Homo sapiens: one gene and its partner. Changing the gene in region 1 together with any one later gene gives a genetic interaction. Each region holds a gene or a part of one and is shown in the gene's direction. Other genes may lie near its edges.

The links.
Region 2: changes in ITGB7 (region 1) and HMGA1 together harm fitness more than expected from each alone (negative genetic interaction), as found in Homo sapiens cells (one large-scale study listed by BioGRID).

What each region holds. Positions count from the first base shown.
Region 1 is NC_000012.12:53,190,670-53,194,229, reverse strand, and holds the end of ITGB7 (integrin beta-7 isoform a precursor), read left to right. Parts: coding exon 1-32; exon of another isoform or gene 33-328; coding exon 329-522; exon of another isoform or gene 523-866; coding exon 867-1,090; exon of another isoform or gene 1,091-1,319; coding exon 1,320-1,539; exon of another isoform or gene 1,540-1,691; coding exon 1,692-1,900; exon of another isoform or gene 1,901-2,210; coding exon 2,211-2,371; exon of another isoform or gene 2,372-2,498; coding exon of another isoform or gene 2,499-2,531; exon of another isoform or gene 2,532-2,593; coding exon 2,594-2,674; 3' UTR 2,675-2,907; downstream 2,908-3,560. UniProt on the Homo sapiens protein: Integrin ITGA4/ITGB7 (alpha-4/beta-7) (Peyer patches-specific homing receptor LPAM-1) is an adhesion molecule that mediates lymphocyte migration and homing to gut-associated lymphoid tissue (GALT).
Region 2 is NC_000006.12:34,243,302-34,246,731, forward strand, and holds the end of HMGA1 (high mobility group protein HMG-I/HMG-Y), read left to right. Parts: intron 1-166; coding exon 167-217; intron 218-1,529; coding exon 1,530-1,583; 3' UTR 1,584-2,930; downstream 2,931-3,430. UniProt on the Homo sapiens protein: HMG-I/Y bind preferentially to the minor groove of A+T rich regions in double-stranded DNA. It is suggested that these proteins could function in nucleosome phasing and in the 3'-end processing of mRNA transcripts.

The sequences.
Region 1 (3,560 bases):
GACAGTGCAACCACGTCCGAATCAACCAGACGGTGAGAGCCAGCAAGCACAGGCAGAAGGCGGGCAGGGGGAGGTGGGAGTGGGAAATTAAGCAGGCAGGAAAAGATGGGTGGCAGGTACAGGGAGTGACATGAGAGCCTGAGGTAGTCCTCCATCCATCCTTCCTGGAGCAGTCTGAGTGGCTTCCTCAGGCATGTTTCTAGGAGTTGGGTGTTAACATGACCCCATCCCTTCATTTACTAAGGGGTGAGGTTCTGGATGATTGGTGAGTTTGGGGTATGTGTGTGTGCATGTGTATAACCATGGCCTGATTCCTGCCTCTTCTCAGGTGACTTTCTGGGTTTCTCTCCAAGCCACCCACTGCCTCCCAGAGCCCCATCTCCTGAGGCTCCGGGCCCTTGGCTTCTCAGAGGAGCTGATTGTGGAGTTGCACACGCTGTGTGACTGTAATTGCAGTGACACCCAGCCCCAGGCTCCCCACTGCAGTGATGGCCAGGGACACCTACAATGTGGTGTATGCAGGTGAGGGCCTCCTCTTCCCTTCAACCACCTGGCTCCCAACAACCAACCAACCCTGGCCCGTATTCCTCCGCTGCTTTCCATCCCCCCCACAGGAGTCTCCTCGACATCCCGACTCCCCACTCAGTTTCATCCCTTGAAGCTTCCCATGTATGTCCAGGCCCTCCCCCTGACTGGGGCTCCCTCCACTCTCTCACCCCTCAGTGTTTCACTATACTTAACATCCTTTCAGCTGTTTGTCTGTCTCCAACTCTTTTGAGAACTTGGGTTTAGAGGTTCCTGGGAGAGACAAGTCAGGGGTGATCAAACCCTCTGACCTACTTCTCTCCTTTGCCTTCCCCTTCCAGCTGTGCCCCTGGCCGCCTAGGTCGGCTCTGTGAGTGCTCTGTGGCAGAGCTGTCCTCCCCAGACCTGGAATCTGGGTGCCGGGCTCCCAATGGCACAGGGCCCCTGTGCAGTGGAAAGGGTCACTGTCAATGTGGACGCTGCAGCTGCAGTGGACAGAGCTCTGGGCATCTGTGCGAGTGTGACGATGCCAGCTGTGAGCGACATGAGGGCATCCTCTGCGGAGGTACCTGGAGCCTTGGGGAGAAGGGCGGGGTCTGAGAGGCCTTCCCAAGGCACTTAGGCTCTGGGAATCTCCTGGCATGGAAGGCAAATATCAAAAGATTCCGGTGTATGGGTTAGAGGGTGTGGTTGGCATACTTCAAAAAGATTGGATGCGTGGGCTTGTCGTGCCACATGATGGCCAACTGTGTGTGTGGAGTATGGTTGTCACCCTCTGCATGGCTCTACCCCAGGCTTTGGTCGCTGCCAATGTGGAGTATGTCACTGTCATGCCAACCGCACGGGCAGAGCATGCGAATGCAGTGGGGACATGGACAGTTGCATCAGTCCCGAGGGAGGGCTCTGCAGTGGGCATGGACGCTGCAAATGCAACCGCTGCCAGTGCTTGGACGGCTACTATGGTGCTCTATGCGACCAATGCCCAGGCTGCAAGACACCATGCGAGAGACACCGGTGAGGCCTCAGGTCTTGCATCTTGGGAGCAGGGGCACAGTGGGGCTTGTTGAGCTACTCCCATCTGCCTACTCTCCGTCCTGCTTGTAGTTGGGCAAGGGGCATTGGGTGACAACTGCCCAGCTGGTAACCTATTGGCATCTACTACACAGGGACTGTGCAGAGTGTGGGGCCTTCAGGACTGGCCCACTGGCCACCAACTGCAGTACAGCTTGTGCCCATACCAATGTGACCCTGGCCTTGGCCCCTATCTTGGATGATGGCTGGTGCAAAGAGCGGACCCTGGACAACCAGCTGTTCTTCTTCTTGGTGGAGGATGACGCCAGAGGCACGGTCGTGCTCAGAGTGAGACCCCAAGAAAGTAAGTGGGCAGGGATGCCACAAACCCTGGAAGTTTGATGGGCAGGGTCTCAACTCTGGGGATGCAGAGTGAAGATAATGGGAAACAGGCTGGGGGCTGAAGCAGAACTGTGAATCCAGGACAAAGGCAGAGGCAATTGAGCAAGTGGACGAGGCTAAGGCCCTGGGCGGTGAGGATAACCTTGGACCTCCCTGGGTTCCCTTTGCTTTCAGTGACAGACAGGGTTGGACAGGCTGGACACACTGTGAGCAACTGATGATCTGTCCCTATGCTCCAGCTCCCACAAGTGTGTCTGGTTTCTTGTTCACAGAGGGAGCAGACCACACGCAGGCCATTGTGCTGGGCTGCGTAGGGGGCATCGTGGCAGTGGGGCTGGGGCTGGTCCTGGCTTACCGGCTCTCGGTGGAAATCTATGACCGCCGGGAATACAGTCGCTTTGAGAAGGAGCAGCAACAACTCAACTGGAAGCAGGTGAGGAGACTTCCTGGTTAGGCCCCTTTTTAGCTGTTCCCCCACCACAAGACCAGCCCTGATTCCTCCCACTGGGTTCCCCCAGCCCCTGGCACATGTAACCAACCCCTCTGCTAACTTCCATCAGCTCCTAGGATTCGGCTCAAGGCTGGCCTCTTAGGTCTAGAAAGGGGACGAGGAATCCTGGGATTTTTGCTTATAATCTGCAACATCTTTCTCCAGGACAGTAATCCTCTCTACAAAAGTGCCATCACGACCACCATCAATCCTCGCTTTCAAGAGGCAGACAGTCCCACTCTCTGAAGGAGGGAGGGACACTTACCCAAGGCTCTTCTCCTTGGAGGACAGTGGGAACTGGAGGGTGAGAGGAAGGGTGGGTCTGTAAGACCTTGGTAGGGGACTAATTCACTGGCGAGGTGCGGCCACCACCCTACTTCATTTTCAGAGTGACACCCAAGAGGGCTGCTTCCCATGCCTGCAACCTTGCATCCATCTGGGCTACCCCACCCAAGTATACAATAAAGTCTTACCTCAGACCACAGCTGTCACTTTGCTTTACCTCATCAAGGCCAAAGCAGACTGTTTATAGCCTGGGCCTCGGGAAAGCTCTTGTCCATCCTCCTCTTGCCACCTGAGGGCAGGGAGAGGTGCCCAAGCGCGAATGTGCAGGAAACTCCCGGGGTGCACCCTGGGACCCAGGAAGCCAGGTCTGGAAAGGGCCTATGAATTCTCAAGTGCTGCGGATGCAGGGGGGTCCCAGGTCAGAGACACTGCATCTGTTGGTGTCTAGCCTCCTTCCGTCCTGCTGCGTGTGCTTTTTCGTCTTGCTCAGAACTGATGCCCTGTTTTTGCTCCTACTTGCTTGTTCCTCTGTGGAGAAGGGGTTTTAAAATGGCTTATAGGGTGCTGGAAGTTGTGGGGTGATTATGTAGGGAGAAAAAAGGAAAACAACTAAAACCAGTATGAAAAAGCTTCCCCAAAGAGGAGATAGTATGTAGAAAAGCCCCATTTTCCTTTTATTTAAATATCCTAAATATATCACGAAGGAACATACACTGCACTTTAATGGTAAAAAGATACAAGTTTATAACATCTTATAAAAACTACCATTTAAAAGTGATCTTGTCCATTTGATATTCCCCTCCCCCATAGCAAAATATTATTTAAAAAAAAAAAAAACAAAAAACAG
Region 2 (3,430 bases), on another chromosome or scaffold:
AAATGTGGCTGGCCAGTCATTGCCAGCTGGACTTGGGTGGGCCTGTTGGGTGAGAGTGTTGGGTCACCCTGAACAGGCAGGTAGGTCTGCCCCCCATCACTATTGGGCATCGGGTGAGCACTGATGAGCATTTTGGACTTAGGAGATATTTTCTCTAACCCTCTAGAAAACCACCACAACTCCAGGAAGGAAACCAAGGGGCAGACCCAAAAAACTGGTAGGTGAAGAAGCAGACTGCTGCTTGCCTCCTGGGCTCTTTTGAGTTGAGGGTGTTGAGTACACAGTACCTGATGCTATGCACCCCCTATGGAAAGGCTCTCCTTGACCTGCTGGGACATCAGATTTTACAGAAGTCCAGAGAGGGGAAGGTACCTGGCCTGGGCTGTGCCCATGAGAAGTGAGGGGTCCCAGGTATAAATCAGACCACATCCCCCTGCCCTGCCCTGCCCTAGTTGTGTGTGGGGGTCCCTCCCTCTCCTGCTCCTAGAATACTCAGAACTTCTAGGGGAGATCTTGGAAGTCATCTAGCCTGTGTCCCCCTCAATTAGAGATGAGGAAAGGAAGCCATAGGGGGAAGGTTTGTCCTTCCTATGAGCCTCTGCAGAAGAGAAACAGCGAAGGAGCTGGGCCCTGGGAGGGGTCGGTGCTGGAGTTCTGATGTGACCCACCACACTGCACTGGAGGGCACCATCCAATTCTGGGTCCCCAAACAGCTGGTGGAAAGGCTCGGTGGGCTGAGTCAAGAAGCTGCCTCTAGGGGGCCACTGCAGTTAGGGTCACCCCAGCCTTCCAGCTCCTGGCCCTCTCCTACCCCCAGCCTGCCCCCTCAAATCCCTGAAGCTGTCATTCCTTGAGCTGAGCCACTGCTGGGGTGGGGGGGTTAGGGGGTGCTGCTGGCCAGGCCCCAAGAGTGAGTAACAGGAAACAAGTTGTTTTGGAGTTTGTGCCTGGCACGGGGGCTGTAGCCCCGTGTGGTGTCCCGACATTCCCGCCCAGTGAGTGAGCCCCGGCGGCACACACTTCCCCTTCCTCCCCACCCCGGCCTAGGGTCAGCCCTCGGCCACCCCGGAGGGCCAGGGCACCACAGCACAGCATCTGCCCCTGTGGGCCAAGGACCTGGTTCCCCTGCACCCACCAGCGGGCTCTTGCACCTTCCAGCCACCCCTTCCCATTTCCTCCCCCAGCCACCTCTTCCCCCACCTCCTCTTCTCCCCTAGGGAGTCAGTCACATCCTGAAGCTCATTGCTGCCCTGAGCTCTGCCCTCCTGCCCTCCCTGGGCCTGGGGGCCAAGGGGGCTTGGCTCCTGGCTCTGGGTGAGAGCAGCATGTGTGTGGGGTTTTTTCCTCCTTTTAAATTCTTTTTATGAATGAAGCCGGGCCGTGGAGGTTGCTGAGTCACCCACACACTCAGCCCTGACTCATCCCTCTTCAGGAGAGCCAGGGAGTGCAGGGAGCGGGTGGGGCCAGCCTCTGGGGGTGGAAGAGGGGGACCGGGCCAGAGCTCACACCAACAACTGCCCACCTCACAGGAGAAGGAGGAAGAGGAGGGCATCTCGCAGGAGTCCTCGGAGGAGGAGCAGTGACCCATGCGTGCCGCCTGCTCCTCACTGGAGGAGCAGCTTCCTTCTGGGACTGGACAGCTTTGCTCCGCTCCCACCGCCCCCACCCCTTCCCCAGGCCCACCATCACCACCGCCTCTGGCCGCCACCCCCATCTTCCACCTGTGCCCTCACCACCACACTACACAGCACACCAGCCGCTGCAGGGCTCCCATGGGCTGAGTGGGGAGCAGTTTTCCCCTGGCCTCAGTTCCCAGCTCCCCCCGCCCACCCACGCATACACACATGCCCTCCTGGACAAGGCTAACATCCCACTTAGCCGCACCCTGCACCTGCTGCGTCCCCACTCCCTTGGTGGTGGGGACATTGCTCTCTGGGCTTTTGGTTTGGGGGCGCCCTCTCTGCTCCTTCACTGTTCCCTCTGGCTTCCCATAGTGGGGCCTGGGAGGGTTCCCCTGGCCTTAAAAGGGGCCCAAGCCCCATCTCATCCTGGCACGCCCTACTCCACTGCCCTGGCAGCAGCAGGTGTGGCCAATGGAGGGGGGTGCTGGCCCCCAGGATTCCCCCAGCCAAACTGTCTTTGTCACCACGTGGGGCTCACTTTTCATCCTTCCCCAACTTCCCTAGTCCCCGTACTAGGTTGGACAGCCCCCTTCGGTTACAGGAAGGCAGGAGGGGTGAGTCCCCTACTCCCTCTTCACTGTGGCCACAGCCCCCTTGCCCTCCGCCTGGGATCTGAGTACATATTGTGGTGATGGAGATGCAGTCACTTATTGTCCAGGTGAGGCCCAAGAGCCCTGTGGCCGCCACCTGAGGTGGGCTGGGGCTGCTCCCCTAACCCTACTTTGCTTCCGCCACTCAGCCATTTCCCCCTCCTCAGATGGGGCACCAATAACAAGGAGCTCACCCTGCCCGCTCCCAACCCCCCTCCTGCTCCTCCCTGCCCCCCAAGGTTCTGGTTCCATTTTTCCTCTGTTCACAAACTACCTCTGGACAGTTGTGTTGTTTTTTGTTCAATGTTCCATTCTTCGACATCCGTCATTGCTGCTGCTACCAGCGCCAAATGTTCATCCTCATTGCCTCCTGTTCTGCCCACGATCCCCTCCCCCAAGATACTCTTTGTGGGGAAGAGGGGCTGGGGCATGGCAGGCTGGGTGACCGACTACCCCAGTCCCAGGGAAGGTGGGGCCCTGCCCCTAGGATGCTGCAGCAGAGTGAGCAAGGGGGCCCAAATCGACCATAAAGGGTGTAGGGGCCACCTCCTCCCCCTGTTCTGTTGGGGAGGGGTAGCCATGATTTGTCCCAGCCTGGGGCTCCCTCTCTGGTTTCCTATTTGCAGTTACTTGAATAAAAAAAATATCCTTTTCTGGACTGGAGTCTCCTGTGGTGTGTGCCCCTAAAGCCTGGGGCAGGTAGGATGGGTGACACTTGTGTTCTGGCCCCCATCCTTCAGGCTGCAGGAAGGGAGGGGAAATAGCACTGGAATCACCTCCGGGGAAGGTCATTTTAAGCCTCTTGATGAAATCAAAACCCCTAGCCACAAAACATTTTATTTACAAAATATATACTGAATACTATACATCTGGCCCCATCACCATGGAAACAACTCCAAAGCCTGCCTGGGGATTTGTGCCCAAGCCCAGCCCAGGAGGGCTAGAGAAAGCAAAGGTGTCTACCAGCCGCCCCCATCCCAGAAGGAAAGCCTCTTCCCATGAGTGCCTGTGGGTGGGCGGTGAGCTCAACACCCACAAAGGGCAGAAGGCCTGGGGGCAGTGAGGTGATGGTGAGGGCATGGGAAGCAGATGCTGCTGAGGGTGGGTGGAGGGAGAAATGGAGACCCAGCACCCAGCAGGGGGAGCCAGGTGACAGCA